Regions from separate parts of the Homo sapiens genome. Here regions 1, 2 and 4 are each linked to region 3. Evidence: fine-mapped expression QTL. A gene starts in region 3. Each other region holds a variant in brackets. All regions are shown on one strand. Distances are from middle to middle. Region 1 overlaps ANKDD1A (ankyrin repeat and death domain containing 1A). Region 2 overlaps ANKDD1A (ankyrin repeat and death domain containing 1A). Region 3 holds the start of ANKDD1A (ankyrin repeat and death domain containing 1A). Region 4 has its middle 27 kb from the start of ANKDD1A.

Region 1 (8,050 bases), 41 kb after region 3:
AGTTCAAAAGTAAACGCTGCTACGGATAAGAACTTTCATATATGATAAAGAAGCACTTGTACATTACAGTGGCGGGGGCAGAGATAGTTAATAAATGGTGTTGAGACTGCTGGGTCAAGCGGAAGTGCCACCACACCAAGGGCAGTACCGTGAGGACATGCCTGCTGAGGGCCCCAAGAGGGGCACGGAAGGTCAGAGGGGCGAATGGAGTGACCTGGACCTGATGGGCGTGGCCCAGCATCTGTCTGTTTCCACAGCACTGGAGAGCCAGCTGAATCACAGCCAGCTGAATAACATGTTAACCCCATGCCGTGTGGGCAATTATTTTCCAAACATGGTTGTATGTTGGAACCACCTGGGAAATTTTGAAACCGTTAAATGCCTAGGCTGCACCCAGTCCCAGGTACATGAGAATCTCTGGGGGTGACATGGGCCCTAGGTGTTTCCAAGGAGCAGCTGAGTCTGAGAACCACTGGTGCAGGGGAAAGCATGGCCAGCTCCATCTCTGACTAAGCTGTATTCTCATCTGTAAATTAGGACCACTATCATGCAAGACACAGATTATTTTGAGCAGCCAGAGAGGTGAAGTATACAATTTGTGCATCATGGTACCACAACGATGAAAGTCAATTCTTTCTCCATTCAGAGTGACACCAACAGAGTGCATAGTGGGTGTTCAGGAGAAGGCCTGGGGCTGGGGAGGTTCTAGAGACCAAGACACAAACCCTTCCCTCCCCATCTGAGAGGCTGCTCCTCCACTCCCCTTACCTATCTCCAGGCTGAGCTTGGCTGGAGCATGGAGAAGGGCCTTGGAGGCTTTTGGCCTCTTTCCCACCTGGGCATGTTCAGGAGGCGGTGCAGGGTGGCATAGACAGGCGCTCTGGTCAAGTGGCCCCATTGGCTCCTTCTCCCTCTCTCTCTCCTCCCTCACTGTTCTCAGGCACCAGGAGCTATCAGGAGCACGGCCACCGAATGCTGCTCATTTGGCTGCATGGCGTGGCCACGGCTGGTGAGAACCCCAGCAAAGCGCTGTTCGAGGGCCTCGTGGCCATTGGCAGGAGGGACCTGGCTGGTAAGAGCGTACTCTGCTGGGCTGCTTCTCAGGAGCTGGGTGGCCCCCACTGGAATGCAGCAGGGCCCTCCAAGGGCTGCTCAGACAAGAATGCTGTGATGCTGGCTCTAGGCCTTCCAGATTCCTACCCCTAGCCCTGCCCTCTTTTCCCTTGGGCAAACTACAGTGCCTCCTGGCCCTGGTTTCCCCATCTGTGCAATGAGGGTGTTGGCCCAAACTGAACCCTGTGACCTTCACAGCCCCGGAGCCAGTGATGCTGTCCATAATCTCTTCCTTACCAGCCCTCTATACCTTGACATTTTTTTTCCATTTTGGAATAAGCCTGGAACCACCTCCAGACTTTTTTCACAAACATTAAGACATAGGAGCCAAAACTGACTTAATATGAGTTGAACCAGTCAAATCTGGTCAAATAAACCTTCTGAGGTCATCACAACTTATTTGAGTATGCCAATCTCAAAAGCCTGATATGGGATTCAGTGTTCTGTGGAATCATCAGACAAGCAGGATAGAAGGTTCTAGTACTAATCCCTCATTAAAAACAAAATCAGCTCATGATGAAAAAGCCTTAAACGCTGTGATACCCACTGACGTGGTACATAATGGGGCAACCACAGAATGGGGCACTAGGCAGCCACTGATAGTTGTGAAGTCTCCATTAGATATGAGGCAACAAAGAAAACCACTCCTGACATATTTCTAGTATATTGCTGAGGGAAATGTTTCTAGCATATTATTGAGGGAAAAGAAAGGACCGCCCCCCCCCCCCCCCCCCCCCATAGCTGCTATAGGCAAGGTGGAAAAGCTAAGACTCATTTCAGGGTAGAGAGATTAGGGACGCTACCTTTCTTTCCCCAAAATGTTCTTAAATATAGTTGTTACATCTTTTAACACAAACTGTGGCATGCAATTAAAACATAAAACCAGTCCTGTGAGGCAGAGCTTAGGCAACAGAGGAAGTAAGATTCTTGTTTTTAACAGAAAATATCAGGAAGAAAGCAAACGCAGCCCCGAGTGCCCCCAGGAGGTGCACAGCCATGTAACCGGAGGGGCCAGACCTTCAGGCACGTGGGACCTCAGCGTGTGGAGCCACCTGAACAGAAGATGACCATCATTTAAGGGCTTTTTAAAAAATCACTGTTAACAGACCTCCAGGTGATTCTACTGAAATGCACAGTCATGCAGAGCCCAGGAGGCAAATGTTTGTACACTGATCTTTTTCATGAGGATGGGTCCAAGGGCCTGTAATCCCGTCCAACAGGTATGGTCCTTTTGAGCTCTTGGCACACTTTGTTTATTTCTTCTTCTTTTTCTTTTCTTCTTCTTCTTCTTCTCTTCTTCTTCTTTCTTCTTTCCTCTTTTTCTTTCTTCTTTCCTCTTCTTTCTTCTTCCTCTTTCTTCTTTCTTTTTCTTTTCTTCTTCCTCTTTTTTCTTTTTTCTTTTCTTCCTCTTTTCTTCTTTTTCTTTCTTCTTCCCTTTCTTTTCTTTTCTCTTTTTTCTTTTCTTCTTCCTCTTCTTTTCTTCTTCTTCCTCTTCCTTCTTCCTGTTTTCTTCTTCCTCTTCCCTCTTCTTTCTTCTCTTCTTTCTTTTTCTTTTCTTTCTTCTTCTTCTTCCTTTTCTTTCTTCTTTCTTCTTGTTCCTTATTCTTCTTCTCTTCTTTTCTTCTTCTATCTTCTTTCCTTCTATCTTCTTTTTCTTTCTTTCCTTCTTTCTTCTTCCTCTTCTTCTTCCTTATTTTCTTTTTCTTCCCTTTTCTTCTTTCCTCCTTCTTCCTCTTCTTCCTTCTTTCCTTTTCTTCTTCTTTCCTTTCTTCTTCCTTCTTTCTTTCCTCTTTTCTTCTTTCTTCCTCTTCTTCATCCTTCTTATTCTTTCTT[C/A]TTCTTTCTTCTTCCTCTTCTTTTTCTTTCTTCTTTCCTTCTTTCTTTTTCTTTTCTCTTCGTCCTCTTGTTCTTTCCTCTTCTTCCTTTCTTTTCTTCTTCTTCTTTCCTTCTGCTCTTCTTTCTTCTTCCTTCTTATTCTTCTTTCTTTTCTTTCTTCTTCCATCTTCTATCTTCTTTTTCTTCTTCTTTCCTCTTCTTTCTTCTTCTTAGTTCTTCCTTTCTTCTTCTTCCTTCTTTTCTTCCTCTTCTTCCTTCTTTTCTTCTTCTTTCTTCTCTTTCTTCTTCTTCCTTATTCTTCTTCCTCTTTCTTCATCTTTTTCTTTCTTCTTTCCTTCTACTTTTTCTTCTTCTTCTTTCCTCTTTCTTCTTCTTCCTTCTCCTCCTTTCTTCTTCTTATTCTTCTCCTTCTTCCTTCTCCTTCTTTTTCTTCTTCCTTCTCCTTCCTCTCCTCCTCCTTCGTTCTTTTTCTTTCTTCCTTCTTCCTTCTCCTTCTTCTTAGTTCTTCCTCCTTCTTCTTTCTTCTTCCTCTTTCCTTCTTTTCTTCTTCCTCCTTCTTCTTCTTCTCCTTCTTAGTTTTCTTCTCCTCCTCCTTTCTTCTTCTTAGTTCTTCTCCTTCTTCCTTCTCCTTCTTCTTCCTTCGTCACCGTCTTCTCCTTCTTCTTACTTTCTTCTTCCTTCGTCTTCTTCTCCTTCTCCTCCTCCTTCCTTCTCCTTCGTTCTTCTTCTCCTTCTTTTCTTCTTCTTCCTTCGTCTTCTTCTTCCTCCTCTCCTTCTTCGTCTTTTCTTTCTTCTTCTCCTTCTCCTTCTTCTTCCCCTTCTTCCTTCTTCTTCTTCCTCTCCTTTTTCTTCTTAGTTCTTCTCCTTTCTTCTTTCTTCTTCTCCTTCTTCCTCCTTCTTTCCTCTTCTCCTCCTCCTCCTTTCTTTTCTTCTTCCTTCTCCTTCTTCTTTTCTTCTCCTTCTCCTCCTTCTTCCTCCTCCTTCTTCCTTTCTTCTCCTTGTCTCTTCTCCTTCTTCTTTTCTTCTCTTTCTTCTTCTCCTTCTTCCTTCTCCTTCCTTCTCTTCTTCTCCTTCTTCTTAGTTCTTCTTCCTCTTCTTCCTTCTCTTTCTTCCTCTTCTTCTTTTCTTCTTGTCTCTCCTTCTTCTCCTTCTTAGTTCTTTCTTCTCCTTGTTCTTCTCCTCCTTCTTCCTTTCTTCTTTCCTCTCTTTTTTCTTCCTCTTTCCTTCTTTCTTCTTCTTCCTTCTTATACTTTCTTTTCTTTCTTCCGCTTTCTACTTTCTTCTTCCTTTTTTCTTCCTTTTTCTCCTTTCTTCTTTCCTTCTTTTCTTCTTTTTCTTCTTCCTCTTCTTATTCTTTCTTCTCCTTCTTTCTTGTTCCTTATTCTTCTTTCTTCTTTCCTCCTCTTTCTTCTTCTTAGTTCTTCCTCTTCTTTCCTTCTTCCTTCTTTCTTCTTCTTTTACTTTTTTCTTTCTTCTTTCCTTCTTATTCTTCCTCTCCTTCTTCTTAGTTCTTCTTTCTTCTCCTTCTTTTCCTTTCTTCTTCTTAGTTCTCCTTTTCTTCTCCTCCTCCTCCCTTCTTCTTCCTCCTCCTTCCTTTTCTTCTTTCTTCTCTCCTTCTTCTTCTTCCTCTTCCTTCTCCTTCTTCTTTAGTTCTTCCTCCTCTTCCTTCTCCTTCTTCCTTCTTCTCCTCTCCTTCTTCCTTCTCCTTCTTTCTTCCTCCTTCTTCTTAGTTCTTCTTCTTCCTTCTCCTTTTCTTCTTTCTTCTCTCCTTCTTCTTCTTCTTCCTTCTTCTTCCTCTTCCTTCTCCTTCTTTTCTTTCTTCTCCTTCTTTTCTTCTCCTTCTCCCTTCTTCTTTCTTCTTCTCCTTGTTCTTCTCCTTCTTCTCCTCCTTCTTCTTTCCTCTTTTCTTCGTTCTTCTTCCTCTTCCCTCTTTTCTTTCTTCTGCTTTCTTCTTCCTTTTTTTCTTCTTCCTTATTCTTTTCTTCTTTCCTCTTCTTTTCTTCTTTCCTCTTCTTCCTCTTTCTTCTTCATTCTTTCTTCTTCCTCTTTTCTTTCTTCCCTCTTCTTTCTTCTCTTTTTCTTTTTTCTTTTCTTCCTCTTCTTCTATTGTTTCTTTTTTTCTTCTTTCTTCCTCTATCTTCTTCCTTTCTTTCCTTTCTTCTTCCTTCTTTCCTCTTCTTTTCTTTCTTCTTCCTCTTCTTCTTTTCTCCTTCTTCTTTCTTCTTCCTCTTTTCTTCTTCTTTCTCCTCCCTCTTTTCTTCTTCCTTTCTTTTCTCCTTTCTTCTTCCTCTTTCTTCTTGTTCCTTATTATTCTTTCTTCTTTCTTTTCTTCTTCTTCTCCTTCTTTCTTGTTCCTTATTCTTTTCTTCTTCTTCTTCTTCCTCTCCTTCGTCTTCTTAGTTCTTTCTTCTTCTCCTTCTTTTCCTTTCTTCTTCCTTCTTAGTTCTCCTTTTCTTCTCCTTCTCTTCCTTCTTAGTTCTTCCTTCTTCTTCCTCCTCTCCTTCTTCTCTTCTTCTCCTTCTTCTTCCTTTTCTTTTCTTCTTCTTTCTTCTTCCTTCCTCTTCTTCCTCCTCTCCTCCTTCGTTCGTCGTCTTCTCCTTCTTCTTCTTCCCTCTTCTCCTTCTTCCTCTTTTTCTTCTTCCTTCTCCTTCTTCTTCCTTCTTCTCCTCTTTCTTCTCCTTCTTCCTCCTTCTCCTTCTTCTTTTCTTCTTCCTTCTCCTTGTTCTCCTTCTTCCTTATTCTTCCTTCTTCTCCTTCTTCCTCCTCCTTCCTCTTTTCTTCTTCCTTTTCTTCTTCCTTCTTCTTCTCCTTCTTTCTTCTTGTCTCTTCTTCTTCTCTCCTTCTCCTTGTTCTTCTCCTTCTTCTTCTCCTTCTCCTCCTCCTTCTTCTTCCTTCTCCTTCTTCTTTCTTTTTGTTCTTCTTTCTTCTTCTCCTTCTTCCTTCTCCTTAGTTGTTCTTCTTCCTTGTTCTTCTCCTTCTTTTTGTTGTTCTTTCTTCTTCCTTCTTCTTCTTTCTTCTCCTTTTCTTCTTCCTTCTCCTCCTCCTTCTTCCTTCTTCTCTTGTCTCTTCTCTCTCCTTCTTCTCCTTCTTCTTGTCTCTTCTTCTCTCTCCTTCTTCTTCTCCTTGTTCTTCTCCTGCTTCTCCTCTTCCTCTTTCCTTCTTCTTCCACTTCTTCTTCTTCCTCTTCTTCTTCTTTCTTTCTTTCTTCTTCTTTTCTCTTTTTTTTGATATGGAGTCTTACTCTGTTGCCAGGCTGGAGTGCAGTGGCGCAATCTTGGCTCACTGCAACCTCCACCTCCCAGGTTCACGCCATTCTCCTGCCTCAGCCTCCTGAGTAGCTGGGACTACAGGTGCCTGCCACCACACCCAGCTAATGTTTTGTATTTTCAGTAGAGACGGGGTTTCACTGTGTTAGCCAGGATGGTCTTGATCTCCTGACCTCGTGATCTTCCCCAGGGATGGGGTGTTCCATCTTCTGCCCTGTCCGGCAGAGTAGCTGCTTGCCACCTGAGGCTGTCATGCACCTGAAATGTTGGCTAGAGGGACTGAGAAGCTGAAATTTCTTATTTCTCATTATTTGAAATTGCAGGCACCCATAGCAAGTGGCATCCATGGTGCTTGGCTTTGAGGTGCCAGGCAAGCACAGCTTGTTCTGGGGCTTGGCTGTACCAGCAGGGGGATGTGTTTCTGGGGAATTGTGGCTCTGGAAGCTTCACGGTTTCCCAGAATGTGGAAAATATATCTGTGCAGGATAGAAATCCTGCCCAGAGGCTGTTTCTGTCTCATTTGAGCTCTCCTTCATGTGGCAGAGCTGGCTGTGGCGTTTAGGAGCCTACATTTTAGAAAAGCTTACCTCAAAGTTCTGCATTGAGCCTGAGACTGGAAAGGAGATAAAATAAAACAGCTGACAGGAGCTTTGGTAGTCACACATGCCTGATGGGGTGCACAGGGCCACAGTCTCTGAAAGGCAATTTGGCATTGTCTGTCCACAATATACTTTTATCCATTGGTCCAGCAATCCTACTCTAGGAATTTTTCCTACATATAAACCTGTATGCATACAAAATGATAGACATACAAGGTTATTACTCTGAAAAAGCAAAAGATTGGAAACAAACCAAGTGACTGGCTACAGGGGACTGGTGAAATAGAGTATGTTCCATCCACACAGTGGAATTCTGTTCAGCAGTGAAAAAAGGATGAGAGTGCTTTCCAAGTGTTGTTATGGAAAGAGCTCCAGGATAAATTAAGTGGAAAAAAACCCCAAGATACAGGTACATTAAACCGAAGGAAATTGGTTCAGAGGATAGCTGCACCATTTTTAGAGAAAAAGCTTCCTTTCTCTCTTCACCTTTTGCAGGTGATGTATTTTTTTCTTTGGATTCCTTTTTTTTTTCTTTTTTTTTGAAACAGTTTAGCTTGGCCGGGCGCAGTGGCTCATGCCTGTAATCCCAGCACTTTGGGAGGGCAAGGCGGGCAGATCACGAGGTCAGGAGATCGAGACCATCCTGGCTAACACAGTGAAACCCTGTCTCTACTAAAAATACAAAAAATTAGCCAGGCATGGTGGCGGGCACCTGTAGTCAGTCGCAGCTACCTGGGAGGCTGAGGTAGGAGAATGGCATGAACCCGGGAGACAGAGCTTGCAGTGAGCCGAGACTGTGCCACTGCACTCCAGCCTGGGCGACAGAGCAAGACTCTGTCTCAAAACAAACAAACAAAAAAAGAGACAGAGTTTCACGCTTGTTGCCCTGTCTGGAATGCAGTGGTGTGATCTTGGCTCACTGCAACCTCCGTCTCTTGGGTTCAAGCAATTCTCCTGCCTCAGTCTCCGGAGTAGCTGGGATTACAAGCACACACCATCATGCCCGGCTAATTTTTGTATTTTTAGTAGACAGGTTTCACCATGTTGGTGAGGCTGGTCTTGAACTCCTGACCTAAGGTGACCCATCCACCTCAGCCTCCCAAAGTGCTGGGACTACAGGCATGAGCCACGGAGCCCAGCCATTTTTGGATTCTTAAAACTTAAGAAAAATTCTAAAACATATTTGTGATCTATTACGTTATGATATATGATAGGGAAAAAATAGACAACTTTACCTAC
Region 2 (7,618 bases), 21 kb after region 3:
TCTCTACACCCTGCTAACTGGGGGCATGTGTTGGCCCTTCATGGTTCACCTGCTTCCTGCGTGTCTCTGAACACAGAGATTTCACGCTGTGATTGCATTTCCCACCGCTTGTCCTGGCTCGCAGCAGCCAGCCTGCAGGCTATAGGCTGCAGAGAAGCTGGCAAGGAGAGAAAAACAAAGCTGTTGAGGGCTTTTTAAAATTATTTTAAAATTTTATTATTTTTAGCTGAATTCAATTTTTTTTTGAGACAAGATCTTACTCTGTTGCCCAGGCTGGAGTGTAGTGGCGTAATCACAGCTCATTGCAGCCTCAACTTCCCATGCTCAAGCAATCCTCCTGCCTCAGTCTTTCCAGTATCTGGAACTACAGGCACGCACCACCACATCTGGCTAATTTTTGTATCTTTTGTAGAGACGGAGTCTTACTATATTGCCCAGGCTGGAATTCCTGGGCTCAAGCTATCTGCCCACCTCAGCCTCCCAAAGTGCTGGGATTACAGGTGTGAGGTACCATGCCCAGCAGGGAGATCCCTTTAAAGGACAACCCCACGCAGGCTGACCTCAGCAGGGGCCACTTCTGATACAAAGTACGTTGCGCCCTCTGCCCTGCCCCATGCAGCTGCTTCTCTTGGCTATGTCACTGTCACCTTTAGACTTTCCAAGTGCAAAGCAACTACCAGTCCTCTGGCCCTCAAGTCCCAGGGACACATGTCAAGCTCTCCACATGATCACCTGAAGACCCTCCTACATTATTGACTCATTGAACAAATATCTACTGAGTGTTGGCCATGTACCCCCGGCCCTATTCTAGGCACTTAAGGAAACTTCAGAGAACAAAATAGATGCCCCTGTGGTGCTTATGTTCCAGCAAGAAGGGTCAGACACATGGAACCAACCCAAATGCCCATCAATGATAGACTGGATAAAGAAAATGTGGCACATACACACCATGGAATACTATGCAGCCATAAAAAGGAATGAGATCATGTCCTTTGCAGGGACATGGATGAAGCCAGGAACCATCATCCTCAGCAAACTAACACAGGAACAGAAAACCAAACACTGCATGGTCTCCCTCATAAGTGGGAGCTGAACAATGAGAACCACATGGACACAGGGAGGGGGACAACACACACCAGGGCCTGTTGAAGGGGGGCAAAGTTAGGGAGAGCATCAGGGCAAATAGCTAATGCATGCAGTGCTTAATACCTAGGTGACGGGTTGATGGGTGCAGCAAACCACCAATGCACACGTTTACCGATGTAACAAACCTGCACATTCTGCACACGTATCCCAGAACTTAAAGTAAAATTAAAAAAAAAAAAAAAGTCAGACAATAAATACTAAGCACTCAGCCAGTGACAGAGTGTGTTAGCAGGTGATCTGTGCAGTGGGGAAAGGAAAAGCAGGACCCAAAAATAGTCTCAGGAGGACAGAGGTGGGGGTTGTAGTTTCAGTGTGGCCCGGGCAGGCCATGCTACTCAATGAGAAACTAACGTCTCACACAAAGACTTGAGGGAGGCAGGTGACTGAGCCAAGCAGCTGCCTGGAACAGCCTGAGCGCAGGGGAGAGTTGCTGGGGCCTTGAGCCGTGAGAGGAGATGGATCTGGGGGACATGAGGAGGGACCGGCTTCAGATGGGCACGTGGAAAGTAGAATTGGATTTGTTTAATTTTTAAGCAATGTGCCTGCCTTGAAGTATAAGGAAAGAAAGACCAGGGCTTGGCCCTTGAATCTGCCCCTGGTTATAGTTTTTGGCCCAGTTGTCAGGAGCAGGGTGGCACTGACCCAGTGTGCATGGCTGCAGCTCATCACAGGTCTGTGATTCTGGGACTCTCTGGTCTGCTGGCCTCTCAGGAGCCCTTTTTCCTGCAGGAGGGGAACACTGCCCTTCATCTGGCTGCTGGTCGGGGCCATATGGCTGTGCTGCAGCGACTTGTGGACATCGGGCTGGACCTGGAGGAGCAGAATGCGGTGAGTCACCGCCTGGGGATGGCGAGATGCATGACCCTTGCTTGCTCTCTGCCTTCGAGGAACCCCCACCAGTCCATGGTGAAGTCTAAAGCCAGAAGGCTGAGGGCATGATCTCGAACTGAGAGCCCACCAGGGAAAGACAAGCAGCAGCACTGAACTCCAGGCTTAATGGTAGTACTTGGCATGATGCCTCACCCCAGAAGTGAGACAGAAAGTGTGTGTTCAAAGAAGGGAGACGTCACCGTGGACAGGATGGTGAGGGAGGGCTTGCTGGAGGAGAAGGAAATAGAGGGGAGGGGCTGAGACAGCCTGACCGGGGCAGAACATGAGCAGAGATGTGGAGCCAGGAGTGACTATGCCATGTGTGTGCTCCATAAAGTGAGGACTTCAGGGGTGGGGCTCATGGAATCACAAACAAGAAAGTTCATTGTTCCCAGGGGCAGGGCAGTGGAGAGCTCAAGGGGTCCTGGGGCCAAGGCACAAGGGGCATCCTCTCACCGTGGGATTGGGGGTCACTTGGGGGTGGGCCTCCCCACCATCCTCATTGCTCTTCTTGTGTGTTGCAGGAAGGTCTGACTGCCCTGCATTCGGCTGCTGGAGGATCCCACCCTGACTGTGTGCAGCTCCTCCTCAGGGCTGGGAGCACCGTGAATGCCCTCACCCAGGTAGCCAGGCCCTCCCAAGACTGCGGTCGGCTCTTGGCTGCTGAGCCATAGCCATGTCGGCAGTAACGGCCACAGGGATTCCTGAACCCTGAGTGAATAGAGGCTTCGAGGCAGCAGACAAGGTTCTGATCTTGGCTTCTCCACTGCTGAGCCCTGTGACCTGGAGCAAGTTACTTAACCTCTCTGAGCCTTGTTTCCCAACTATAAAGTGCAGTGACATTTACTTTTTTACATTGTTGTGAGGATTAAATACCTAACACAGTGCCCAGGACATAATAGGGCCCAACACCTCAATACCTGTTAGTGTTTTTTTGTTTTAATTTTTTTGAGATGGGTCTTACTCTGTCGCCCAGGCTGAAGTGCAATGGTGCGATCTTGGCTCACTGTAACCTCCGCCTCCTGGGTTCAAGCAGTTTTCCTGACTCAGCCTCCCAAGAGGCTGGGACTACAGGTGTGTGCCACTACCCCCGGCTCATTTTTGTATTTTTTGGGTAGAGACAGGGTTTCACCATGTTGGCCAGGCTGGTCTTGAACTCCTGACCTCAAGTGATCCACCTGCCTCAGCCTTCCAAAGTGTTGGGATTATAGGCGGGATAGCCATTGCACCTGGCCCTGTTAGTGTCTTCTATTTGTTGAGCTCTTGATCGTTCACAAAGCCCCTTCATAACTGTTACCCCAGAAAAATTCCACCCATTTTGCAGATGAGAAAACTGGAGCTTTGAGGGCACTTTCTCAGGGTCACAAGCTAGTACGAGGCAAAGCTGAGTCTCAAAAGCCTTTTCCCCTGACTCCAGAGCTCCCACCCACTGATGAAGCTTTTCCCCTGACAGAGCTGGGGCTTGAGGTGTGACCCTGGATGAACCTCTTCTCTCTCTCCCCGTTGTACTCATCAGTTCTGCCAGTAAAAATTCTCCTCTATGACCTGGAAAGCGGGGTTGTGGCCTTTCTTTAGGTAGTGAGTTGGTGTTTTGGGTTTGCTTTTTATTTTTGAATCAGTGACAAATAACCTTTCTGGCTGGTTGAATGGCTTCAGGTTCTGGAATTCTTGCTTTGTTCTAAATGTCAATAGTATAGCAAAAATATTAATAATAAATAATACAATATAAATAATAATAGCAAAAACACACAGGCAGTTCAAAAACAGAGAATTAAAATGTTATGCTAAAAAATATTTATTTCCCCACTGCTTAATTTGACTGGCTTTGAAAAGAAAAGTAGGCTGGGCAAGGTGGCTCATGCCTGTAACACAGCACTTTGGGAGGCCAAAGCTGGAATATTGCTTGAGCCCAGGAGTTTGAGGCTGCAGTGAGCTATGATTGCACCACTGTACTCCAGCCTGGGTGACAGATTGAGACCCTGTCTCAAGAAAAAAAAAAAAAGACTGGGAAGGTTGCACCCAGCTGGGTGGCCATTGGGTGGGGGGCTGGAGCTGCTCATCACGCCAGGCCTTTTGCTCCAACCTCAGCTTGTGGTTTCTGGCAGAGGCCACGTTCCATTTCAACACTCCCACCCCTCTCAGAATGTCATGCCACAGGGTCTCGGAGGAGGTGCCAAGCCCACGGTGACTGCATTTCCCACTGGGAGATGGACTGAGTCCCACACACCCCAGGTACTCGCTCAGCTGGGACTTTAGCAGGGTGGCTAGCTAGTCCTGGTTTGCCCCATACTGTCCTGATTTTAAAATGGAAAGTCCCACATCTCAAGAACTCCTCAATCCTGGGCAAACTGAGACAGTGGTGGGTCACCCTAGTGGGGCCTGCCTGGTGTGTGCCTTGTGCAAGGTGATCACTGGGCCAGGTTGGGCACTGACTGAAAGAGAGCCCTTTGAGGCCCACCAAGATCAAGCCTCCATTCTAGCCCAGCCAGGATCCTGTTTGGAGGCACCAAGACCAGCTTGTGCTGGGCAGTGCATGCTGGGTGGAGTTTGCTCTGTATTGGCAAATCTTATTTGTCTTCCTCTTTAAAAACCACCTCCTGGCCAGGTGCGGTGGCTCACGCCTGTAATCCCAGCACTTTGGGAGGCTGAGACGGGTGGATCACAAGATCAGGAGTTCAAGACCAGCCTGGCCAACATGGTGAAACCCCGTCTCTACTAAAAATACAAAAATTAGCTGGGCGTAGTGGCAGGCACCTGTAATCCCAGCTACTCGGGAGGCTGAGGCAGGAGAATTACTTCAACCTGGGAGGTGGAGGTTGCAGTGAGCCGAGATTGTGCCATGTACTCCAGCTTGGGTGACAGAGTGAGACTCTGTCTCGGGAAAAAAAAAAGTCTATCATCTGCATGTCTTTACCAGCCATAGAATTGGGCAGGCTTTGGTCTGAATTCTTGAGTTTGTGATAGGAGGTGAGGAAAAGACTGAGACCATAATGAGTTCCTTTTACTGGTCATGAGACCTGGGAAAGTCATTGATTTTTCCAGCCTCAGTTAAATGGGGATAATACTCCCAGGGGTGTTGTGACACTCAAATGGAAAAATGAATCTCGAAGAGCTTTGCAAACCTCAGTAGGAGGGGTCCTTGTGATA[A/T]CGCATTGATGCCTGTTTCCTTCTAGAAAAACCTAAGCTGCCTTCACTATGCAGCCCTCAGTGGCTCGGAGGATGTGTCTCGGGTCCTCATCCACGCAGGAGGCTGCGCCAACGTGGTTGATCATGTAAGTATGGTGCGAGTGTTGAAGGGGGTCTCCATTGCAAAGCCTTCCATGAGCACACTGATGAAGCACAGGGAGAAACAGGCACATCGGATCCTTGGGGTTGGGGTGCGGACCAGGAGTAGGGGAGCCGGCAGCACTTAGGAGAGTGAAATACTGTTGTAGCTGTAATAGGATTAGAAACCCAGCTTGCTTGCAATTCCTCTGAACTGAATTATTAGCTCCTGTTCTCTGCTCGTTTATGCATTGGGGCTTTTTTTTTTCTTTTCTTTTTTTTTTTTTTTTTGAGACAGAGTCTTGCTCTGTTGCCCAGGCTGGAGTGCAGTGTTGCAATCTCGGCTCACTGCAGCCTCTGCCTCCCAGGTTCAAGCAATTCTCCTGCCTCAGCCTCCTGAATAGCTGGAACTAGAGGCACACACCACCATGCCCAGCTAATTTTTTTTTTTTTTTTTTGTATTTTTGGTAGAAAAATACTGGGGTTTCACCATGTTGGCCAGGCTGGTCTTGAACCCCTGACTCAAGTGATTCGCCAGCCTCAGGCTCCCAAAGTGCTGGGATTACAGGCATGAGTCACTGTGCCAAGCCTAGGCATTGGGTTTTACTATTAATCTTTTATGTTGCCTATCTGTCCACTTAATTGTTAATCTTTTTACTGTTATACATTTGGTCCACACACAGGAACTGTATAATCTTTTGGTTAAAACACAGACTTTGGGAGTGCAGTGGTTCACACCTGTAATCTCAGCACTATGGGAGGCCGAGGCTGGAGTATTGCTTGATCTCAGGACTTCAAGACCAGCCTGGGTAACCCAGGGAGATCCATCTCTACAGAATTTTTTTTGAAAAACTGGCTGGTCATGGTGGTGTACACATGTAGTCCTAGCTACTTGGGAGGCTGAGGCTAAAGGACTGCTTGAGCCCAGGAAGTTGAGGCCACAGTGAGCCATGATCACACCACTGCACTCCAGCCTGGGCAAGAGTGAGACTCTGTCTCAAAAAAAAAAAAAAAAAAAATTGGGTTGGGCATGGTGGCGTGAGCCTGTAATCCCAGCACTTTGGGAGGCCAAGGTGAGCAGATTGCTTGAGGCTAGGAGTTCGAGACCAGCCTGGGCAACATGGCAAAACCCCATCTCTACAAAAATATAGAAAATTAGCCAGGTGTGGCCGGGTACAGTGGCTCACACCTGGAATCCCAGCACTTTGGGAGGCCGAGGCGGGCGGATCACGAGGTCAGGAGATCGAGACCATCCTGGATAACATGGTGAAACCCCATCTCTACTAAAAATACAAAAAATTAGCCGGGCTTTGTGTCAGGCGCCTGTAGTCCCAGCTACTCAGGAGGCTGAGGCAGGAGAATGGCATGAACCCGGGAGGCAGAGCTTGCAGTGAGCCGAGATCGCACCACTGCACTCCAGCCTGGGCGACAGAGCAAGACTCCGCCTCAAAAAAAAAAGAAAAGAAAATTACTCAGGCATGGTGGTGTATCCCTGTAATCCCAGCTACTTGGGAGGCTGAAGCACGAGAATCACTTGAACCCAGGAGGCAGAAGTTGCAGTGAGCCAAGATCGCTCCACTGCACTCCAGCCTGGGCAACAGAGTGAGACTGTCTCAAAAAGAAAAAAAAAAGTAGTGGGAGTTTCAAATGGTGACTATCTTTCTAGAAGGCAAGTTGACAATAACTATCAAGCTGAATTAAATAATTAAAATTTAAAAACAAGAGGCTTTGGTGTTAGGCCTGGCTTTGTATGCTGGTACTACAAACTGAATAATCCTGGGCAAGCTGCTTTGACCTATTTGGGCCTGTTTCCTTACCTATAAGTACTATTATTATTATTCCCATTACATAAACAGGGAAACATCTATGGTTTAAATCAGAAAGGGGTCATTTCTTACAGCTAAAACAAGTACTATATTTAAACTTATTATAAAAACAACATTACACAATTCATTGGAATATAGAGAAGAAAGGCATCCTTGATTCCAAAGCCCTAGAAAAGCAAGGACTTTTTTTTAATGCCCTCCCATTTTCCCCCATGTAAATAGTATCACCTCCAGCTAGAAAGAATTCAGGCTAAATGCTTACTTGTTTCTGCCCATCAAGACACCAGAATCCTGATGCCAGCCCAGTGGTCAAACTAAGAAGTTTTCCTGTTACCTTCATTTAGTATGTTGTTTTCCTTTTCATTTTAGCTGTTTTTGCTGCCTATTTATTTATTTATTTAATTGTGTCACTTTTATTTGTTGTATTTGCTTTGTTTTTAATACCAAAAGTAACTTGCTGGTAGTAACAGTGTCAAAAGACACATTCATAAAAAGTGAAGGCGTTGCCAGGT
Region 3 (6,755 bases):
ATTATAATGAATTACTATTTCTTACTTATCAGATTGGGAAAAATCCAAGTTTTACAGAATGTTCTCCTTGGAAACAGGCACCCTCATACATTGGTAATGGAAATGCAAAATATTTCTGGACCTTATGGAGGAGAATTTGGCAATAGCTAGCAAAGTTATATGTGCATTTACCCTTTGACCAAGCAATCCCATTTATAAGAATAGATCCCATAGATGCACTGGTAAAAATACCAACTGATGCATGCATAAGGTTGGTCATTGTAACTCTATTGTAATAACAAAAGTCTGGAAACAGGGCCAATGTCCATCAACAGGGAGTGGTTGAATAAGCCACCCAATGGAGGACTCTGAGGCTGTACAAAGGATGCAGGAAGATCTCAACAGACTACTGCGGAGAGATCTCTGTAGTAGATTGTTCCCAGAATAAAGCCAGAAGAATGTTCAGAACGGGCAAATCTATGGAGAAAGAAAGTAGATTTGTAGTTGCCTAGGGCTGTGTGTGGAGGGTTGGGGAGGGTAAACTGCAAGGGGGGGTGATAGCTAAAGCATATGGGCTTTCTTTTCTGGGGTGATGAAAATATTTAGTGGTGATAGTTATACAACTCTGAACGATACTGTACTAAAAACCATTGAATTATACACTTAAATGGGTGAATTTTAAGGGGCAGGGCAAAGTAAGAAGATGATATATAGTATGCTACTGCAGTAAAGGGAGAATATATGATTAAATTAAACAATATAAGGGTAAGCATCAACAACACAAATGTTATTTTGTCAGTCAGGATGCAGTGAAGGAAGCAGAATCATGTTGAGGTTATGGGTTTAGGGTACTGGTCCCCAACCTTTTGGCACTAGGGTCCAGTTTTGTGGCAGACAATTTTTTACAGGACTTGGGTGGTGGGGGGATGGTTTTGGGATAAAATTGTTCCCCTTCGGATGATCAGGCATTAGTTAGATTCTCATAAGAAGTGTGCAACCTAGGTTGGGCATGGTGGCTCACGCCTGTAATCCCAGTACTTTGGGAGGCCGAGGCAGGTGGATCACTTGAGGTCAGGAGTTTGAGACCAGCCTTACCAACATGGTGAAACCCCATCTCTACTAAAAAAATACAAAATTAGCCGGGCATGGTGGCGCAAACCTATAATCCCAGCTACATGGGAGGCTGAGGCAGGAGAATTGCTTGAACCCGGGAGGCAGAGATTGCAGTGAGCCATTGCACTCCAGCCTGGGCAACAAGAGCAAAACTCCATCTCAAAAAAAAAAAAAAGAAGTGTGCAACCTAGATTCCTCACATGCACAGTTCACAATAGGGTTCACCCTTCTATGAGAATCTAATGCCACCACTGATCTTTCAGGATGCGGAGCTCAGGTGGTAATGCTCGCTCTCCTGCTGCTCACCTCCTGCTGTGTGGCCCAGTTCCTAACAGGCCATAGACCAGTACTAGTCTGAAGCCTGGGGGTTGGAGACCCCTGGGATTAGGGATCTGTGATAGTAATTTGCCTTACACAGTTGCGGAAGGACCAGAAGGGGAGTTGGGGATCAGAGGAGTCCTTAGTCAGTCATCTGAGAAACCAAGTATGTCCAGCTGCTAAAATGGAACCACAAGGGAAAGCTCCTGGGGAGGTCTATGGGTGGTACTAATGCCCTGGGTCTGCAGCCAAGTCCGCGATGGCCTGGGGCCACTGTTGGTCAGCAGGCTCAGCAGCTGGGAAGAAAAGCTGGATGTGGAGTGAAGGAGAGTGACAGCAGGCTGGAAGCCAGTGGTGCCCTCTTCATCCATCACCACAGCTGACTATGACAACCTTCAGAGACTTAACTTTGAAACATGTAAATACTTTACATAATTGTAAAGCAAAATTAACATTTAAAAATATCAAAAAACAAAAGCAAAACAAAATAAATAAACCATGCATGTTGAGTTGGTGGCATAACCACATAAAGAACTATTCCAAGTGACTAAAACAGTAACGTGACACTATGCCCCTAGTGGGATGTACATGTGACAAAAGCTTTACAAAAAACATTTAAACTGTTTTCAGGAATAATATCTTTGGCTAGGCGTGGTGGCCAAGCACTTTGGGAGACCTAGGTGGGTAGATCACCTGAGGTCAGGAGTTCGAGGCCAGCCTGGCCAACATGGTGAAACCCCCGTCTCTACTAAAAATACAAAAATCAGCCGCGTGTGGTGGCACACACCTGTAGTCCCAGCTACTTGGGAGGTTTAGGCATGAGAATCGCTTGAACCTGGGAGGCAGAGGTTGCAGTGAGCTGAGATTACGCTACTGCACTCCAGCTTGGGCAACACAGTGAGACTCTGTCTTAAAAAAAAAACAAAAACAAAAAGGGGGGGGTGCGGCGCAGTGGCTCACACCTGTAATCCCAACACTTTGGGAGGCCAAGGTAGGTGGATCACCTGAGGTCAGGAGTTCAACACCAGCCTGACCAACATAGTGAAACCCCATCTCTACTAAAAATACAAAATTATCCAGGTGTGGGGGCGAGTGCCTGTAATCCTAGCTACATGGGAGGCTGAGGCAGGAGAACTGCTTGAACCCAGGAGGCAGAGGTTGCAGTGAGCCGAGATCATACCACTGTACTCCAGCCTGGGCGAAAGAGTGAGACTCTGTCTCAGAAAAAAAAAAATCATATCTTTGATTATTATGTTGGAATTGTTATTTTGAGACCATTTTGAGGGGTTGGCTCAGGGCTCATTAATTGTTAGCTGTTATCATTATGTTATTTTTCAAAGGCCATTCCAAATACCTCCTTCTTCAGGAAGCCTTCTTGAACTATATTCTAAGGACTAATGACTGAAAGATGCTCTTCCTCCTTTGATCCCCAAAGTAGTAGTAACTACACCTATCATGGCTTTGCTGGCTTCTTGCCTTGGGATAGAGATGCCTGAGACCCCATTATCCCTAAATTCAAAGAAGCTGTAAATGCCTTTAAGGCAAAAAGGACATGGACATCCCCCAAGGGTCTGAAGTGCAACCCATTCTGGTGTATTTAATGTGTATCTTTTTGTTTCTATGTGTCTTTGCAAGTCTGTGTTGTTTGATGTAAATGCATTTGTAATATTTTTATTGATATTGTTTCCTAGGTCTTATTTGGTTTGGTTATTTACTTTTTCTGCCTAGCACTAGGTGTTTAAATCCATATTGCCACGAATACAGCGGGTCCCTTGCTTTGAGTGCTGCACAGTTTATCCATCTGCTCTTACAAGAAAGGGCGCTTAGATTGTCTCCAACTCCCAGCAACCACAGCAACACAGCAACCAACATCCTCCTACATGTCCCTTTATGGGCCTGATAAATCTTTCTGAACACTGATAAATCCGACCATCTCTTCATATGCTTGCAGACCTGCTGAGGTTGTGGTCCCTTAAACGCCAGCTCACATCTTTGGGGTTTGACTTTCTGCGCCTGAGGCGGCGGGCCCAAGGCTCAGCCCTCCTCCCCGAGTCCCGAGAGGCGCGAGGAGGATGAGCCTGCCAGATGCCTTGTGCGCATCTATCTCCAGGGCCGGGGAGGCTGGGCGAACTCCCGGGGAGGAGACTGGGTCAGGGACACCTGCGGAACTCGGCGTGGCCCCGACCCGCCGGCCTCGGGCGCGGAGGGGTGGGCAGGTTAAGAGAGCAGGAGGAGGGACCTGCGTCCTGGTCCGGGACTGGGGTGGCCGGGGCAGCTGCGCTCCTAGCAGGCGGGGCGTGGAGTCTGGAGGAGCGACCGCCCCGTCCTCTCGGCTCCCCGGGCCCCGCCCCGGCGGACGCGCGCCTCGCGCCCGGGCACCAGCGCGCGCAGGGGCTGCGGAGCGGCAGGATGCAGGAGGAGCTGGCGTGGGAGACCGACGGCCGTGAGTCTGCCTGGAGGAGGGAGGGGGGCGGGCCGAGGCCGAGAGGACCCCCGCATCCGTTTGGGGAGTGCCAGGGGTGAGGTTGGCGCCCTCCGAACGGCCACCTCCGTGTGGGGCGTCTGTGTGGCTCCGAGCGGAATGGTTACCGGTCCGCGCACTGGGCCGAGGGGACCTTGCCAGTGCGTCTGGGACTCGGGGACCACACCCGCCAGGTGAGCGGGGAGCAGCGGCTGAGAGGTTAGCTACAAATAATAAAGGTAATAGCGATCCTTGACTGCGTGCTGTACTTTGTGTGCCAGGCCTTGACCCAGGAGAGGCACGTCATTTGATCTTCGCTGCGGCCATATGGGTAGGACATTATGTTATCTTCATTTCGCAGATGAGAAACTGAGGCACAGGGTGTTCAAATGAGTTGTTCAAGGTCACACAGCCATTGAGTGGTAGAAGTGCTGAAGGGCCCAGCTCACCCGGAATGCTGGGGCTGGATAGCGAGTGGAGACCGCATCAGATGGGGCACGCACTCAGAGGAGAGGAGCCTGACTGGCCACAGGTGGAATGAGGGCACCTCCGAACCTCCCTCAAGGAGTGCGCCCAGTGCCAGGGCCTCTAGGCCGGGCAGCAGCGTCTGTGTGGGCATCAGCTGGCCTGGGGCAGCTTTGGCTGCACCGTCTGGGAGAGGGGAGAGAAAGATTGTGTCGGTGTCTGCACTGTGAGTCCTTGATCCTGCAGCCCTGGCTGAATCCTGACAGCTGAATCCCGGGGCTTTCCCTCAAAAGCGCATAGTGCAGCTCACTGGATTCCTTTGAGACCTATAGTGTCCAAAATGCTGGCACACTGCATCTACTCAGCTGAGGGATGTGTTGGGGGTGGGAATGCTCAATCAAGATTAGGTACATGGTTCTGCCTGGGGCGGAGGATCACTTGAGTGGGCCTGCGAAGAATGTGTACCAATGGAGCATTGGGGTGTGTGGCAGAGAATTCTGGACAAAGACCCAGCATGGGCAAAGGCTCAGGTAGCTCAGTGGGTATTGGATGTGGCCAGAAAGAGGGTGCCGGATGGGAGGTGGATGGAAGAGATGAGACTGGACTTGATTTCATTCTAACTTAACCTTCTCTGGCCTGACCCTATGCAGTGTCTGCTGGCTTCCCATTGGAACTCCTGGCTGTTTGCCAATACAAACCAGGCCAATCCCCCTAAGCTGCACATAAGATAGAGGGTGCCAGACAGGAAGGGACCTATACAGATCTCTTTCTTCACCCTCCCCCAGTTTTACAATGGAAGAAACAGACCTACAAGGGGGATGTGACTAGCCCAGGATCCTGCTGCTGGAAAGTGGCAGGGAAGGTACTAGAACCCAGGCCTCTGTAAGCTCACATCTGAAGTGGCAGCTCTCTTTGGCTACCAGAATTTGACCCTTTGCCTTGGAGGAATAATAGTGATGATGATGGTGGTGGTGGTGGCGGTGTGGTCATTATGTGCCAGACACTGTGCCAGGGGGTTTTCATATCTCATTTCTAATCATGATATTAACCTTGTAGGGAAGCTCGCACTCCTGTTTTGCAGATGAGGAAACTGCCTAACACAGCTAGGAAGTGGTTAAGCCAGAGTTGAACCCAGGACTGTGTGATTGCCCCCCAGGGTAGCAACTCTGAGATCCACAGGTTGTATCCATGAGGCCCCAGAAAGCTCAAGATCCTCTTTCTCATCTGGAGAAGACTGTGTGGAATTTATCTAGAAAAACAAACTGCATGGCAGGCCTGTCTCTCACCTCAGTGCATCTTAGCCTTCCCTACCAAGACACTCGTCACCTGTCCCTGGATACACAAAGGGGCTGGGTTCAGACATTCATACTGGACCAAACATGCAGGCTATGGGGTCACTTGCCCTGCAGTGACTATGGAAAGGGCCAGCAAATATTTGTCTCTGTGCTAGTATGTGTGAGCACTTTGGGAGAGGGGACAGGCATCTATTCGTCTGGGGATTGTTGGTGTCACTCATACAAGCAGAGATTTTTTTGTTTCTGTTTTCTTTTTTTTTTTTTGAGATGGAGTCTCGCTCTGTCACTAGGCTGGAGTGCACTGGCATGATCTCGGCTCACTGCAACCTCCAGCTCCCAGGTTGAAGCAATTCTCCTGCCTCAGCCTTCCGAGTAGCTGGGACTACAGGTGTGTGCCACCATGCCCAATTAATTTTTGTATCTTTAGTAGAGACGGGGTTTCACCATGTTGGCGAGGATGGTCTTGATCTCCTGACCTCGTGATCCATCCACCTCGGCCTCCCAAAGAGCTGGGATTACAGGTGTGAGCCACTGCACCCAGCCTGTTTTTGTTTTCTTTTTAGAGACAGGGTCTCACTCTGTTGCCCAGGCTGGAGTGCAGAGGTGCAATTATAGCTCATTGGCAGCCTCAAACTCCTGGGCTCAAGCAAGCCTCTTGCCTTAGCTTCTTGAGTAGCCGGGACTACAGGCATGTGCCACCACACCTGGCTAATTTTTAAAAAAACTTTTTTGTAGAGATGGAGGTTTTGCTTTTTAGCCCAGGCTGGTCTTGAACTCCTGGCTTCAAGCCATCCTCCTGCCTTGGCCTCCCAAAGTGCTGGGATTGCACGCATGAGCCACCATGCCTGGCTCAAAAGCAGAGTTTTGTGGGTTCCTCCTGTGCCCACCTTTGGGCCTGCTGTGAGCTGTGGGTGGATCAGGAAGGGTCAAGTGTGGCCAGGGCCTCCAAAATACTTGAAGTCTAGCCATGGAGACTAGACATCCTCACAATCAAGAGCCGTCAGGATGATGGCAGCATGGGGCTCCGGTGGGGATCATCTGGACCTGTGTCCTCCTGGCTCAGAGACTAATGCAGTCTGACCCTGAGCCCACAGGTGTGCGTGACAGGGGTTGGCAGGGGGAGC
Region 4 (5,000 bases), 27 kb before region 3:
TACCAGGCATCTGGCCCTGACACAGCATGAGCTCTGGAATGATGATTGCGGGTACACTGCCCTCCCTCCCTTCGTTTAGCCACTGTGCAGAGTGAACACCCACAGGTCTCAGCATGTGACTCTCTTCTGCAAGAGTCAGCCCAGTGGGGAGACAGACACTCCGGAAACCTAGATATGTGCTGGGCTGGGTGGCAGTGCCACAGCTGGGCACTTTACTCCCCAACATAAATGTAGGCATTTCTGTGTCTTGTGAGCCCATGAATCCTCATAAGACCCTGTTGAGTTGGGAATTACTGCAGAGCTGTAACAGACAGAAAACCTAGGCCCACAGACAGCCAGTGACCTCCCATGGGCACACAGTTTGGGTGTGGCAGAGCGCGGTATGGAATCCAAGCCTTCTGGTGCTAAACCCTGCAGGATTCTGGCAGGTCACACTCCAGGCTCCCAAGCCAAGCAAGCGTTTGAAAATGCCTTCCCATGTCCAGTCGCGGTGGCTCACACCTGTAATCCCAGCACTTTGGGAGGCCAAGATGGGTGGATCACTTGAGGTCAGGAGTTGGAGAACAGCCTGGCCAACATGGTGAAACCCCGTCTCTACTAAAAGTACAAAAAAAATGAGCTGGGCGTGGTGGCACGTGACTGTGATCCCAGCTACTCAGGAGGCTGAGGCATGAGAATTGCTTGAACCCAGGAGGCAGAGGTTGCAGTGAGCCGAGATCATGCCACTGCACTCCAGCCTAGGTGACAGAGTGAGACCCTATCTCAAAAAAAAAAAACAAAAAAAAAACGAAAATGCCCCTCTGTGAGCCACAGGCTCTGCCCCTGCAGTGGGCTATCTACCTGTCCTAGCTTGCTTTCTTCCTCAGAAACAGATGTTTCATCCTCCTACCATTCTCTTGACTGACTCCACAATTGTGGCTAAGACAAACTGGGTGAATCACATCTAAAGCAGAAGCAAGTCTGCATGAACCCCAACACTTCCCCAGTCAATTTCCTGTGTTAGGTTCAGAGGGGTCATTTCAAACTCTCAGCATGTTCAAGACGAGACTGCCTATAAGGCCACGTCTTGGGACATGGTTTAGGGGAGGAGGTAGGAATATGTGGCAGGGCCCTCTGGCTATACGGATCTCCCTATCTGCTGGAAACTCCACCACTAAAACCATTCCTTTGTATCATTTCCCCAGAGGGATCTTGATAATTGTGAAACGCCAAACAACTTGCCAGCCATGAGTCCCAAATCACAGCTATGAAAGTGCTTTACAGTTTATAAAGTGATTTCACAGCGAAAAATGGGTTTGCTCCTCATAACAACTATGAAAGTTAGGGCAGCAATTTAAATGTGTCCATGGAATAGATGAGGACACTGAGTGAGGCCCTGAGAGGCAGAGGAATTCCTCTGCCAATCAGAGCCCACACTTGAATACAGGTCTTTCTACTCCACATTGCATGTACCCCTGATAACTGGGAGTTGCCTTGGGAGCAGATGCTGATGGGACACAAAACAGGCAGATTTTGATAAGAAGGCAGATGATGAGGTGGAAAGGCTCTGAAGAAAGAGGTGGATGGCAGAGCTTGGCTAGAGGGGAGCAGGACTCCCCAGGGAATCGAGGATCTGGGCAGGGGAAAGGGTAGCCTGGAAGCAGGGAGAGGTGGAGGATGAGCTCTGGGAGCCAGAACCTGAATTCTGTTCCGGCCCTGTTCTGAAGCCTGAGGGGCTGGAGTGGACTTCTCCTCTAGGATCTGTCTGCCCTGTCTGCTCTGAGGACCTGCCAGCTCTCCTGGGAGGCGCTCAGGGCATCTTGTGAGCCTGTCAGCACTGACCTTGTCACGCGGCTCATGACTGCTCCTCATCCGACCTCAGATGAGTCAAGAGGGGAAGCAGGCGCAAAGGGCTTCCAGGGGATTCCCGGGATGCAGGCAGCTTGGGGCCCTAGGGGAAAGAGCCTGGGGCTCTTCAAGGCTGGGCTATGAAGCCACCCTCCTCCCAGGGTTGAGGGGCAGTCAAAATATCCCCAAACCTAATGTGATTTCTCACCTGCCAAGTGGCAGCAGTGTGGCATCGGGGCATAAAAGCTGCTAACAGTGGGGAAAGGCCTGGCCCAGTGCCAAGCAGGCTGTGGGCGTCCCTAGAAGAATGAGCAGCGCAACTACAGCAGGAGTCCCAGGCCCTGGGCAGAGAGACACCCCTTTATCGAGACCTACTACCTGCCAGGCACTTTATTTATTGGTAAATTTAATCAGATTTTGAAAACCACAAAATCTGGATACATTTGCATTGTGGTATTTGTTGTAATTGTTGGATATAATTACATATACATGCTATAAAATATAAGATAGAACTAGAACAAGAGTTCTTAATCTGGCATCTAAGGGAACCCGAAAGATCAAAGGATAGAGTTCAAGGAGTCTAAAAATTTGGAAGAGAAAAAATATATATCTTTATTTTCACTAATTTCTACCTGAATTTTAGCATTCTCTTCAACGATGAATGTAGGCAACAAACCACAGCAGTATTAGCAGGACTCGTGATGATGTCACTAGCAATTACAAATATTTTCAAATCATATAACGGTTTTTGAAGATATTTCAAAATATGGTTTATACTCATCACTATTTCAAAATTACAGCAGTTATTGGACCTATTATTAGCTCTTGATCTTCAGGCATTAATTAGGAAGCACTATCTAGTACTATGTCGAAAAA[T/A]TTTTTTTAATTGTTTGATGACTACATTTTAATACAACTGGTTTTCTTTGTAAGCCTATGCTAGTTTATTTTGTGCATTTCAGAACATTATTCTGAGAAGGGGTCTGCAAGTTTTTACCAGATGACAAAGGAGGCCATGGCACACACAAAAGAGGTTAAGAACCCCTGATCTAGGTCTTCCCTGCAGTATTTTAGGATATATCCACATTTTAAAAATGTGGATTTTGGCCGGGTGCGGTGGCTCACTCCTATAATCCCAGCACTTTGGGAGGCCAAAGCAGGTGGATCACTTTAGCCCAGGAGTTTCAGACCAGCCTGGGCAACATGGCAAAACCTCATCTCTCCAAAAATTATAAAAAATTAGCCAGGCATAGTGGCATGCACTTGTAGTCCCAGCTACTCAGGGGACTGGGGTTAGAGGATTGCCTTGAGCCCAGGAGGTTGAGGCTGCAGTGGGCCATGATTGTGCCACTGCACTCCAGTCTGCTGGGTGACATGAGACCCTGCCTCAAAAACAAAAAAATAACAAAAAAAAGCCGGGCACAGTGGCTCGTGCCTGTAATCCCAGCACTTTGGGAGGCTGAGGCGGGTGGATCACCTGAGGTCGGGAGTTCGAGACCAGCCTGGCCAACATTGTGAAACCCCATTTCTACTAAAAATACAAAAATTAGCCGAGCATTGTGGTGCATGCGCCTGTAGTCCCGGCTACTCGGGAGGCTGAGGCAGGAGAATTGCTTGAACAGGGGAGGTGGAGGTTGCAGTGAGCCAAGATTGCGCCACTGGACTCCAGCCTGGGTGTGACAGAGCAAGGCTCTGTCTCAAAAAAAAAAAAAAAAAAAAAAGATTTTGATTTTTTAAAGACAATTTTCCAGTCACATCAGAAAGTTGAGTGCTGATCTGATTATTTCACTTAATTGCATAAAATTCAACTCTGTGACATCCCTGGACAGTGAGCAACCCACAGCTCCTCAGTTGAAAAGTCTTCCCCCAGAAAAGGCATATACATTGTTTAACTTAAAAGCTGCATGTTGGCCGGGCGTGGTGCCTCACGACTGTAATCCCAGCACTTTGGGAGGGCGAGGCGGGTGGATCGCGAGGTCAGGAGTTTGAGACCAGCCTGGCCAACATGGTGAAACCCCGCCTCTACTAAAAATACAAAAATTAGCTGGGCATGGTGGCAGGTGCCTGTAATCCCAGCTACTGGGGAGGCTGAGACAGGAGAATCGCTTGAACCCTGGAGGTGGAGGTTGCAGTGAGCTGAGATTGTGCCATTGCACTCTAGCCTGGGGGACAAGAGTGAGACTTTGTCTCAAAAAAAAAAAATGCATGTTTTTCTTCATACTTATGTCTAATCATCATAATTAGACAATGTCGTAAGAAGAATAGTTAAAGGACTATTCTGGCCAAGGGCCTTTTGGCCAGAAAAAAGGCTGGCGGTAGAGGGCTGGGGGAGAGGACACAAGACAGCTATCTTGTTCTTATGAAGGGCGGCCCTTACATTCCTGTGTGCAGATCTGGAAGCCCGACAAGGACTCATGGTTTGAAATCAGGACTCCAGGCCAGGCGCGGTGGCTCACGCCTGTAATCCCAGCACTTTGGGAGGCCGAGGCAGGCGGATCACGAGGTCAGGAGATCAAGACCATCCTGGCTAACACAGTGAAACCCCATCTCTACTAAAAAATACAAAAAATTAGCCGGGTGTGGTGGCGGGCACCTGTAGTCCCCGCTACTGGGGAGGCTGAGGCAGGAGAATGGCATGAACCCAGGAGGCGGAGCTTGCAGTGAGCCGAGATCGCACCACTGCACTCCAGCCTGGGTGACAGAGCAAGACTCCGTCTCAAAAAAAAAAAAAAAAAAAAAAAGAAATCAGGACTCCAGGCGAATGTCCATATAGTTTCTCTTCTCTCTTTCAGCCACTTCTCCCGGGGCCTTGGGTCCCCCTGCTGGCTCCCCTCCCTTCTATGGAGATGTGCTCTGGGAGAAAGGCCATGAGAAAGAAGCTGGTGTTGAGGACAGAGTGGCTGACCCAAAGCGGAGTTGGTTGGGATGCTGGCCAGGGGACTGCCCACAGGTGTGGTTGAGAACCCATCACCATACCTCCTTGAGTTTCAGTCTCCCCAGCTGTAAAATGAGGACAATGATATCTGCTCTTAGTTGGCAGGCACTAAATGAGATGGTAAATGAGAAAATATTTGTGGTACAAGGTCACAAGGATCAAAAACTCCCTCACACTCAGGTATAGGTGACTGATAATCCTTCAAGGATAGCTTTTCGCAGTAGGCTAAGCCATGTAAATA

The links.
Region 1: its variant is fine-mapped to the expression of ANKDD1A in NK cells (Gilchrist 2021, PIP 0.94).
Region 2: its variant is fine-mapped to the expression of ANKDD1A in whole blood (TOPMed, PIP above 0.99). The same link has a PIP of 0.9 or more in blood mononuclear cells.
Region 4: its variant is fine-mapped to the expression of ANKDD1A in whole blood (INTERVAL, PIP above 0.99).

What each region holds. Positions count from the first base shown.
Region 1 is chr15:64,948,901-64,956,950 of GRCh38, forward strand. It overlaps ANKDD1A (ankyrin repeat and death domain containing 1A), which reads left to right. Exons shown (of 15, transcript NM_182703.6): 14 at 941-1,072. Among named protein-coding and RNA genes, the nearest start is that of SPG21, 37 kb to the right of the region's middle. The variant C/A (reference allele first, on the strand shown) is at 2,947.
Region 2 is chr15:64,928,947-64,936,564 of GRCh38, forward strand. It overlaps ANKDD1A (ankyrin repeat and death domain containing 1A), which reads left to right. Exons shown (of 15, transcript NM_182703.6): 7 at 1,876-1,974; 8 at 2,541-2,639; 9 at 5,190-5,288. Among named protein-coding and RNA genes, the nearest start is that of ANKDD1A, 21 kb to the left of the region's middle. RefSeq lists a silencer at 1,825-2,119 and enhancers at 1,868-1,967, 2,207-3,084. The variant A/T (reference allele first, on the strand shown) is at 5,164.
Region 3 is chr15:64,908,112-64,914,866 of GRCh38, forward strand. ANKDD1A (ankyrin repeat and death domain containing 1A) reads left to right here and starts at 3,791. Exons shown (of 15, transcript NM_182703.6): 1 at 3,791-3,853. The coding sequence starts at 3,820. RefSeq lists silencers at 3,019-3,313, 3,387-3,436, 3,637-3,816 and an enhancer at 4,003-4,546.
Region 4 is chr15:64,882,324-64,887,323 of GRCh38, forward strand. No RefSeq gene overlaps it. Among named protein-coding and RNA genes, the nearest start is that of ANKDD1A, 27 kb to the right of the region's middle. RefSeq lists an enhancer at 1,735-1,954. The variant T/A (reference allele first, on the strand shown) is at 2,704.